2 separate regions of the Homo sapiens genome follow, and region 1 is linked to region 2. The links come from fine-mapping of genetic effects on gene expression. A gene starts in region 2. The other region holds a variant in brackets. All regions are shown on one strand. Distances are between the middles of the regions. Region 1 overlaps MXRA7 (matrix remodeling associated 7). Region 2 holds the start of MXRA7 (matrix remodeling associated 7).

Region 1 (5,362 bases), 26 kb after region 2:
GGCTGACTGGCCACAGGCCCCAGCCATGAGACTGAGAGGAGAAAGGGAGTGACCGAGAACAGGGGAGACACTGCCAGATCGGACCCGGCCAGGACAGACAGAGGCGGAACCAAACATGGAGTGGCTTCTGCTGGGTCCATCCACTTATTTCTCTAAAAAAGAAAGCGGAGGCAGACATGCAAGATGTCAGCGTTTGTTGGCTCTGTGTGGCAAGCACAGGGAGGATTAGTGCTTTCTGCATTTTTGTATGTTTGAAATATTTCATAATTTTAAAAAAGCAAGTCTGCTTTTGTGATGTTAAGTCGGCTGCTGGCAGGAGCAGTGGAAAGAGAAGGTTTCAGGAATGTAGGAACCAGCTCCTGCGGGCAGGCTGGGCTGGGGTGCAGAGCTTCCCCTGAGGCAGTGCCTTGGTTTCCATCAGCACAGCCTGAAGCAGGAGGGGAGAATGAAGCTTGGGTGCAGGCGGTGGGCTGCAGGTGGGGACATTAGTCCCTTACCAGGAAGGACCCTTGCTCCCTGCTTTTGGGGACTGGGGACTCACCGCAGCCATGGCCCTGGCATCTGTCCCTGCCATGTGGCCTGAGACAGCTGAAGGGATGCAGGGATCCTGTTAGTGACTTGGGGACACGGGAGGGAGGCCCTTTGGCAAGGACAAGGAGAGAGGCTCGCAGACCCCTCTCCCTGGCATAGCTGCCAGAGGGCACAGTCCCCCAGCACTGTCACCAGCCTCCCCCCTTATCTGCACCGCTGCTCCTGAACATCCCCCACCCCCAGCGCCTCCTGCCATCTTAGCCTCCTGCCATCTCTAGCAAGGCAGGGAAAGGAAAGGTTTATGGCTCCAGCTGTTGGAAGAATGTGTGAGCACCTCCAGCCCCTCTGCAGTACGAGGCAGCCTCAGAGGTTAATTATTAGTGTCGCTAAAATGACTTCCCTGAGCGACTAGGTGAATTCACAGGAGACTGGAGGAAGAAACCTCCCCCGTCCCTCGGAGGCTGTCACGTTGAATTCTGGTCTAGCAAAACTGGATGCGCTGCCTGGTGCACTGCATGTGACTGAGCGAAATCCTTTTCAAGTCGTTTGTTCTGTCTGGCTCAGAAAACAAAACTAATCAGACTTGCCCCATAAATTGAAACCTAAGACTGGGACCAAGGCAGGATTTTGTATGTTTTCTTTTTTTGGGGGGTAGGGGGATACTGGAATCTTACTCTATTGCCCAGGCTGGAGTACAGTGGCGCGATCTCGGCTCACTGCAACCTCTGCCTCCCGGGTTCAAGCGATTCTCCTGCCTCAGCCTCCTGAGTAGCTGGGATTACAGGCGCCTGCCACCACGCCCGGCTAATTTTTTGTATTTTTAGTAGAGACGGGGTTTTGCCACATTGGCCAGGTTGGTCTCGAACTCCTGGCCTCAAGTGATCCACCTGCCTTGGCCTCCCAAGGTGCTGGGATTACAGGCATGAGCCACCACACCCAACCAGATGTTTGGGTTCTGAATTCGCATCTAGAACCTTCTTCCTTTCACCCTGAGAGCCCCCCCGCCTCCCCATCGGTCCACATCAGCCTATCCGGTAGCATGAAGGCTGCAAGCTAGAGGGGAGGGGCCTGGCTTTTCGGGCTGCTGGACAGGATATGGAGGGACAGAGAGGGCAGCACTTCCAGAATAGCAGCTGAGGATCTCTCTATGCCTCCCTCACTGGGTCCTTTAGTTAGTGGAGGTCGATAAGAGGCCAGCCAGCTCTGCCCGACACCTGCTGGATTCAGGAACCAAGAGGTTGCTCCCCCATGGGGCTTTTCCCTCTGGAAGCTCAGCTTTTCTCTCCTCACCGTGGCTCATGTGCCCGGAGCCTGTGTCCACTCCAGGCCACAGGTCCTGGCTTCCTCTGTGCCCACCACCTACCCATCCATGTGCCCTCTTCAGGCCTCGAGATCTGTCCGTTTTTTGCAGGCAGCAATGGGGGGTCTCCCCTCGGGGACTGGCAAATCGGGCTCTGCCTCTTCAGCGGTACACACGTCAAACCTGCTGCAGCAAATCCCGCATCCCTGGCCTGGCCACTGTGGGCTGCCTGGATGCGTGTTTTCAGATTTCCAATAGCCACAGGGGGTGGGGGGATGACACAAGCCTCCCCAAGCCCAGGCAGGCG[T/C]GGTGTGTGTCCCAAGATGAGCTGTGCTCTGCTTGCCGGAGTTGTCGCCTCTGAGCTCAGTAGCCGAGAGGACCTGCTGGGCAGGGCCAGGGCAAGGCAGAGCACTGCAGATGTTGGGAGGGATGTGGCATCTGGAGACAGCTGTGGACTAGGAGTAGGACTGCTTTCTCTCTGGCTGTCTCGTTGTAGGATTTAAGGGAAAGCTATGGAACGAGAGGGGGTATAGGCGCTGGGGTGAGATGTCTCTGATAGCCAGATGTGGCCTCTGCTTGAGGTGTTTCTTTTTAAACCTAGGGAAAGGGGGCCGGGGTTTGTGGGGCCAGCCTCTACAGCACTCCTGGCACTTACTGGGTCCCCCCTCCACAGGAGAAGGCTTCTCCTTCAAATACAGCCCCGGGAAGCTGAGGGGAAACCAGTACAAGAAGATGATGACCAAAGAGGAGCTGGAGGAGGAGCAGAGGTAGGCTGCAGCCCCTTCGCTGGCGCCTGGCGGGCTCTTGGGGGAGGGGGGTGCCCCTCTGAGCCCTTCATGTTCCTGCCCCTTGGCAGAAGGGCCCAGAAAGGAGGTGGGGCTCCTACACGCTCTGCCCAACCACCGCCCCACCTTCCCAGTTTAGGAGTTCTTTCCTGCCCTGGTCAGCCAGGCTCGCACACCCCTGGCACCCCTCCCTGGCACTGACCAGAAGGAGGCCACTGGTGATGGGGGATACAGAGCCCATTTACTGCACCCCCCCACCCCCTCCACACCCCACTGCCCCCATCTAAAGAAATGAGATGCCAGGAAAGAGCCTGGAGCAGACCTGGCTGTCACTCACACACACAGTCCCCAACAGAGCTGATTTCTCCATTTCTCCTTCGGGACACAGCGGATTCTTGGTGCTCATCCTTCAGCGGCCTCCCAGGCCGGCGCCTGCAGCAGCGCCTTGTAGCTCCGGGCAGTGCAGCTATGGCTTCTCGTTGTTGGAATTGGCTCCCCCTTCCCATTTGGACACCCCCTGCACAGCCACTGGGCACCCCGCCACCTTTTCCCTCCACACCATCCTGCTGGGCGGGGAAGGGGTGCGCTGGGCACAGTGGGACAGCTGGGGAGGTCTCAGCAGAGGGACAGTCCTTTGCACCAGGCGCAGCAGGCTCCTGGTGCTCACCCACACTGCTGCCCTTCTGCAGCGTGGCCTGGAGTCCTTTGGTTAAAGCAGAAGTCTAGGTGGTAGCTGTGCCATTTTCCAAGCCTGGCGACCCAGAGCAGCTTGTGGGAATCACCCCCTACTTGTCAGCAGAAACCAGCGGTCTAGGGTCCGAGCAGGAGGGGTGGTTTATGATTTTGGAATCAGAACTCAACTGCCCTCTCATGGCTGCATGCCAAGCCACCCGCCGGGCAGCCCTCTAACCTCACAGCTGCTCTGCCGGTGACAGGCCCTGTCTCCCCTCCCGCTGCTGGCATCAGCGCTCTCGACCCTCAGCAGGAAAGCTCTTCACCCTGGGTGGGTGGGGGGCGGGCAGTGTAAGCACAGCCAGGAGGAAGAGCCCTGGCAGGAGCCCCGAGTCCTCAGGTGCTGAGGATGCTGCCGCTTGGCATGACCAGGTTTGCTGCATTTATATTTCAGGATTGAGCTGACCTCTGACCTCACTTCCCTGTAGCAAGTTCCTTAGGTCCTGAGCCACAAATATTCTTGCAAATCCTTTTGGTAAGGACACTGATTTCTTAGACTAGTGGTGCTCCCCTTCTACTGCGTGCTAACGTGCCCCCAAACAACTGACGCGGCCTCAACCTCCCCTCCTCCATCGCCTTCATAACCGATTAATACATTTCCCACCTGAGCCCTTCTCATTCTTCTCAAGCACGAGGAATCTCTGGCAGAAGAGGCCCCGTCTGGGGGCAGAGGTTCCTGGAGGGGAGTTAAGTCCCTGAGTTCCTGGAGGGGGCCTAATGGGCCGGCAGGTTGGGGTGCTAGCGCCCCCTCGCAAGGCTGGGGGAACTGTCACCCTGGGACCTCAGGCTTCGGAAATGTGGATGTCGTCACCCTGCAGCCTTGGGTCTCACCCTGAGAAGATGAGGCAGCTTCTGCACAGTGCACAGCAGATACTCTGAGAACGGTCCGTGCTCCCAAGCTGTGAGACAGGCAGGTTCTTAGGATCAGGGCAAGGGTTAGCAGACAACGGCCGGGCCACATCTGATCCCCCACCTGCCTGTGCCAATCCAGCGTGGCAGTAGTAGCAACACTCACCCATTTTCCTGTGGTCTGTGCCTCTTTGTGCCGCAGTGGCCGAGGTGAGTCACTGCAGCAGAGACCACACAGCCCCCCAAATCTAAGTAGTATCTGGCTGTTTGCAGAAAAAGGTTGCAGTCCCTGGACAGAGGCTAGAGGGGGCTGGACACAACTGCCAGCCCTTGAAGGTCCCTGGGGACAGAGGCTGCTCAGGCAGATGGATCTGGAGGGCCTCTTAGAACAAGAAAGACCAGGCCTCCGGCTGGGGGTGAAACTGCCACTGCCACCCACGTCCAGAGCTGGGACCTTGGCAGTGGGGAGGGAAAATCCCTTCCCCTTATTTTCAGAGAGTAGACCCTCTGCTGCCCATCCTTCCCCCACTGGATCTTTGGAGGTCTCTAGACCACCAACCCACACTTGGCTGTTCTGTGGGACCGAGACTGTGCCCGAGGTGCTGCTCCTGGGACGAGGGAAGACTCCTCGACTCCTCTGCATGCTGCAGTTACCACTTTGTGCCCTGAATTGAGAAGGAGGGGCCGGAGGACTTCTTGGGGCAGGACTGGAGTTCACGTTCATTCCCATCACTGCCCAGCCCGCATGCTCCCTGTGGCTCCTAGGCATGCCGGTGGCATCTGCTTGCTCCCCCACACCTCTGCCCCCCTGCATGTGGTTGCCCCTCGCAGCACTGCGTGGGGTCTCCGCGGCTCCACATCACGCTGTCCTCACACGGTGATGCTTGGGGTTGCAGAGGCTGGTCAGTTTGGCTTTGGCTCTTCATCTTCAGCACGATGGTTCTCATGGGGGTGGGGAGCGCTGGCAGCTGTGAGACAGTTCTGGTCCCAGCCAAGTCCAGGGAACCGCCCTAGAATCATCAGTATGAAAAATAACATGCCTGTTGTTATCAAACCACTAAAACCACAGGCCAGCTAGCAGGGTGCTCTCTCTCCGCCTGTCAGGTTCCACCCTCCCGGCCTCCATGCCTCTGATGCCTTTCCCAGCTCTCAGGGTCCAGTCGAG
Region 2 (5,362 bases):
GTGCAGACCTTCTTAAATGCAGGTGTAACGGATCTACATGAAAGAGCATAATTAACACCAATGTATACTTAAGGTAGTAACAGCTTCTTCATAAAGTAGCAAAACTAAGGATCTGTGGGAAGGTTGCTGGTGCAAATGCTTTATAAGCTTACTAGAGACTGAGCCTTGGATTTAGGACTTTAGACGAGTATAGGATGGAACAAAATTTTTGCAGTAAATGTAAAAAATGCTGTGTAGGAGGAAGGCGTATAAGGATGCCCCAGCTGTAGGTTCTTTAGATTGTCTGTAGTATTTCCACGAGTAAGTTGTTTTTGATGTGTGTACTGGTATTGCTGGTAGATTTGAAGTGGAGTCTGGCGGCTTCTTCCACACTCCCCTCCCACTAGCTTGTGTCAAGATGTGACATCCTATGCAGCAAAACTAGGTGAGCTTGCACCCCCAGGCGGTGGCTCTCAACTTTGTCTCATTGTTCAGAAATTTCGGCCAGGCGCCGTAGCTCACCCCTGTAATCCCAGCACTTTGGGAGGCCATGGCAGGTGGATCACTTGAGGTCAGGAGTTCAAGACCAGCCTGGCCAACACGGTGAAACCCCGTCTCTACTAAAAATACAAAAATTAGCCAGGTGTGGTGGCACATGCCTGTAGTCCCAGCTACTTGGTCAACTCAGGCAGGAGAATCACTTGAACCCAGGAGGCAGAGGTTGCAGTGAGCTGAGATCAAGCCACTCCAGCCTGGGTGACAGACCGAGACTCTGTCTTTAAAAAAAAAGAAATGTCATCTAAGCCCCAGTGAACCTCCTGGGAGGAGAGCTAGCCCTGGCCAGCTGTCTCCAAAGTGACTGGATGCTACAGAAGAACTGGGACTGTCTTCTGCACACTCGTGCCTCCTGGAGTTGTCAGAACACTGAGCAGTCTCCTAGTTCTGCGTCCGTCTAGCCATGGGGTCTGCCATGAAAGCCTGTGGATCTGCTATTGGGTTGGTATTTTAAACTTTCACTTGGGTGAAACTTGTTCATCATTTTAAATAAAGCAACATGATTTGGAGTTGTGTTTTTGGCATTGTTTTGTCCTTATTTTCTTTCTTACTCATTTGAAAGTCAACAATGTACTTTGTCAGCAGAACAGGACTTTAAAAAAATGTATTTACACTTTAAAACAATGGGATGGAGCACAAAATTAAGGCCCTGGGCCAGGAGCATTGATGCACACCTGTAATCCCAGCTGCCCAAGAGGCTAAGGCAGGAGGATCACTTGAGCCCAGGATGTCGAGGCTGCAGAAAGCTATGATCATGCCTGTGAATAGCCACTGCACTCCAGCCTGGGCAACATAGTGAGACCCTGTCTCTTTAAAAAAAAAAAAAGAAAGAAAGACCCTGTCTCTTTAAAAAAAAAAAAAAAAAATTGGCTGGGCGCGGAGGCTCACGCCTGTAATCCCAACACTTTGGGAGGCTGAGGCAGGCAGATTGCCTGAGGTCAGGAGTTCAAGACCAGTCTGGCCAACACGGTGAAACCCTGTCTACTAAAAACAGAAAAAAATTAGCCGGGCATGGTGGTGGGCGCCTGTAATCCCAGCTACTCAGGAGGCTGAGGTGGGAGTTTCGCTTGAACCCGGGAGGTGGAGGTTGCAGTGAGCCGCGATTGCGCCACTGCACTCCAGCCTGGGCAACAGAATAAGACTCCATCTCAAAAGAAAAAAAATAGGCCCATACACTGGCTGAAACTTCCACAGTGGTTAAAAGCTAGTCGCCCGTAGATAAAGCCTATTTCACATTTTATAGTTTATAGGCTCTTTTCATCAACCACCACTAAAAGGAAGTGCATGGCCCGCTTAATATCGTGCAGTGCAGCAGAATTCAGCTCTCCCTGTTGCTGAGGGGTCTCGTTTGTGTATCTTCATTTAAAAAGAAGCACTCCATCTAATATCTGGTTTATATCACAGATCAGCTCAGGCACTGTAATATTCCCAAAAAAGTATTAAAGGCATCCTCAGCAAAAACTGGAACCGTGTTTTTTTTAACATTAGGCCTTATGTTTGGCGTGATACCTGACATGCCCGTCCTGTGTTTATTTAAAATAACTAAAGAGTGGGTGGGGAGTGGTAGGAAAGTATGTTTTTGGTTACAACGTGTTTATCTCAAAATCCACTGTTCAGCAACAGAGGCCTGGGAGGATCTGGAGAAACAAAAACAATAGCCTTCATTTCCTTCATTGTACCCTCCCACCCTGCATGCATTCTGGAATTGTGCAAAGAAGAAAGTCTGGTAAGAGGAATAGCGTTGACCAAGGACCTGCAGCTGAATTTCAGGTCTAGGGGCGGGGGAGCCATGTTACTGTTAACAGGGAGGCCTGTGTTGAAGGCTGCTGGCCTCAGCTCCGAAGGGAGCATTCACTGGCCGGGATCTGGAGATGTCCTCTGTGAAAGTGCATTAAGGCAACCCTGAGGATTAAAAGCAACTCCTGACATGCCTATAAAAACGGCAGTGGCTGAACGTAATCCGGCATTATGATTGCTTTACAAGCCAATCCAGGCTGCCGTTTCCATGAAGCTTCCCGGGTTTGCTTGTCTCTCTGCATTCCCACATTTCCAAAATGCTCTAAGACGAACCGCCGTACTAAGGCCAAAGATGACAACCTAAGGGCACCTCATACAGTATTTCAAATTGAACCTGAGCTAAATTGTGCCCCAAAGCGTCAAGGCTGCCCAGGCCGGGCAGGGGTTGGCCCTCCTGTGCCTCCCAGGTGGTCAGGGCTCTGCCCCCTCAACACCCCCGCCCGCAGCCTGTGCGTCACCCTCCCGGGGCCGGAGGGGGCGGGGGCGGGGCGCGGCGATGGGGGCTCCGCCCCGAGGCGGGGCGCGGCGACCGGGCGCGGCGACGGGGCGCGGCGGGCTCCCTCGGGGTCCCAGCTGGCCCGCACTCGGCGGCCGCGGCGCGATGGAGGCGCCGGCCGAGCTACTGGCCGCGCTGCCTGCGCTGGCCACCGCGCTGGCCCTTCTGCTCGCCTGGCTACTGGTGCGGCGTGGGGCGGCCGCGAGCCCGGAGCCTGCCCGCGCGCCCCCGGAACCCGCGCCCCCGGCCGAGGCCACCGGGGCCCCGGCGCCGTCCCGCCCCTGCGCCCCCGAGCCGGCGGCCTCGCCCGCGGGGCCGGAGGAGCCTGGAGAGCCCGCGGGGCTGGGGGAGCTCGGGGAGCCTGCGGGACCGGGGGAGCCCGAAGGGCCAGGGGATCCCGCGGCGGCGCCAGCGGAGGCGGAGGAGCAGGCGGTGGAGGCGAGGCAGGTACGCACCGGGGCCCTCGCGGCCCCCTCCCCACCCCCGGGGCTCCGGCTGCCGCTGCCGTTCCCCGCCGAGCCAGGGAGCGGGGCCGCGGCCTCCAGCCCAGGCTGCCCCCAGGAAGCGCAGAACCCGCGGCCCGCAGGAAATGCAGGTCCCGCCATGCTAAGCCGCAGCCCCGCAAACTCGCCGCCCTCCCCCAGAAAGTGTGGCGAGGGGCGAGCCCGAAGGAGTTTGTTTGGAGGTGTTTTGCTCTCCCCTCCCCTCGGCCTCTCCCAGCCCAGGGCGTGCTCCGCAGCTGCTGGCTCCCAGGCCTCGGGACCAGGGCTTGGAATTTTGCTCCTCACCCACTTCTGACCCCTCCCGCCCACCGGTTCCCAAATCCACGTGCCTGTGGCTTATTTCCAGGCCTGCCATGAGAGTTATCTTGATGTTTAAAAAGTAGGACTTTCGGGGGGCGAGGGAGGAAAGCTGGCTTTTCTTTTTCAGCCAATTTGAAGTCCAGATTTCAGAGTCAGTGCTGTGGCGTTTTGTGAAGCCCGTGGGCTGGGACTGAAAGAAAAGGCACCCGATCCCAGCAGTCCTTTTTATTGTCGTTTTCAAGCTACACATCTAACACCCTCCTACCCCCACTCCCCCGGGTTGTAGGTAAGCTGGGCCTGGATGGAGTGAAGATGCAGGATAAAGCCCTCCTGGAGCACCAGTGAGCACCCCAAAGCGGCCCTCCCTGCCTCTGCCCCAGGCCTCCCGCCATGCTGTCCATCAGCTCGGCCTTGGCCACCTTGTCCTGCCTGTGGATATCTGAGAGGAGTCGGATTTCCCTCATCCACTCATCCCAGCCCCTACACTGTGTGCCCATGTTCCCTGGAGTTCACCACGCTTGGCCGGTCCAGGCCACCGCCAGGGTCTCCGAGTCGGATTGTAATCCCTTGTTCTTACCCCTGAGCTCCTTTTCTTGGAAGGGAGGAGAGCCGGGATGCGCATTGTCAGCGTGCCTGCGTGTCTGCGTGCCCACTCTGTCCTGTGCTGGACACAATGGTTTACCCTGGAGAGAAGCCCTTCGGGGGAGGAGGAGGCAGCCAGGCTGTGCTCAGAGGCATTTCTCTTTGCTGAGTAAGTGCGCCAGACCCCCTCTGAGCAGGCGCTTTGCTTGACAAGTGGGTGACTAATTGTGTCATTAGAGAGGATTCTAACCAGCCACATTTAATGGGGTGGAGCAGGGGCAGGCCCTGCCGTTCTTGCTTGGGGTGGGCTTCCAGACCTCACGCGGTGATGGTGGAGGGGGCGCGGTTTGGACATGTGCTGATCTGTTGTGTTTGCTCCCATATTTGGGATTCCTGCCTCCATCGAGGTCTCGCGGGAGCAGGAGAGGCCTTTAGACAGTTCTGGAGCCGTCATGCACACTCAGTCAGTCCTGGCCTTACAGGGCTGGCCCTTTATCACCCACACCAGGCTCTGGACTGAAGTGCAAAATGTCCTTTAGCGGCGCCCTGTCTTAGCTCAATCCTGTGGGGCACAGCGCTTAAAGAACTTTCTACAAGGCTTTCGGCTCTCAGCACATGGTACCTACAGGAATAGGTTCAGTGGTGTTTAAATAGGGCCACTCGCATAATTTGCCACTGTCTGGGTGAATGCACGTCCTCTGAAGCTGAATGGGTGCTCTGAAGGACAAGGCAGTATGGGGGTTCGCGTGCCAGGCAGCCCCCATGACATAGGTGCCAGTGAGGATGACTTGAGGCTTGTGTCTGTCCTCCCGCTAAGGCACCCTCCAGAGAGAACCCACCCCACAGGAGAATTCAATTGAAGTCAGTGCCCTTCCCCTTTGGGTTCAAGTCCCCAGGCCTTCCTGAGCTGGCCAAAGCTCCCCCAAAACTCCTGCCTGCAAACATTAAGCCAGGTGCTGTGGGGACACAGATATTGTGTCATCCCACCCACTCCCAGTGGTGGCATTAACCTAAGAAGCTGCTTAGAAATTGTCTTGATGAGCTTCGAGTCAGTGACAAGAAAAAAAAGAAAGGAAAACAAATTGTCCTGAAGTGGACTCCAGCGTTTCCAAGAGCTTCCAGTGCTTTCTTCTGATGATCACACTGCTGG

What was found.
Region 1: its variant is fine-mapped to the expression of MXRA7 in sigmoid colon (GTEx, PIP above 0.99).

What each region holds. Positions count from the first base shown.
Region 1 is chr17:76,682,308-76,687,669 of GRCh38, reverse strand. MXRA7 (matrix remodeling associated 7) reads left to right here. Exons shown (of 4, transcript NM_198530.4): 3 at 2,505-2,598. Among named protein-coding and RNA genes, the nearest start is that of MXRA7, 26 kb to the left of the region's middle. RefSeq lists enhancers at 279-1,074, 3,057-3,601, 4,695-5,241. The variant T/C (reference allele first, on the strand shown) is at 2,139.
Region 2 is chr17:76,708,517-76,713,878 of GRCh38, reverse strand. It overlaps MXRA7 (matrix remodeling associated 7), which reads left to right and starts at 2,914. Exons shown (of 4, transcript NM_198530.4): 1 at 2,914-3,274. The coding sequence starts at 2,933. It also overlaps a transcript of JMJD6 not described here. RefSeq lists a silencer at 2,683-2,892.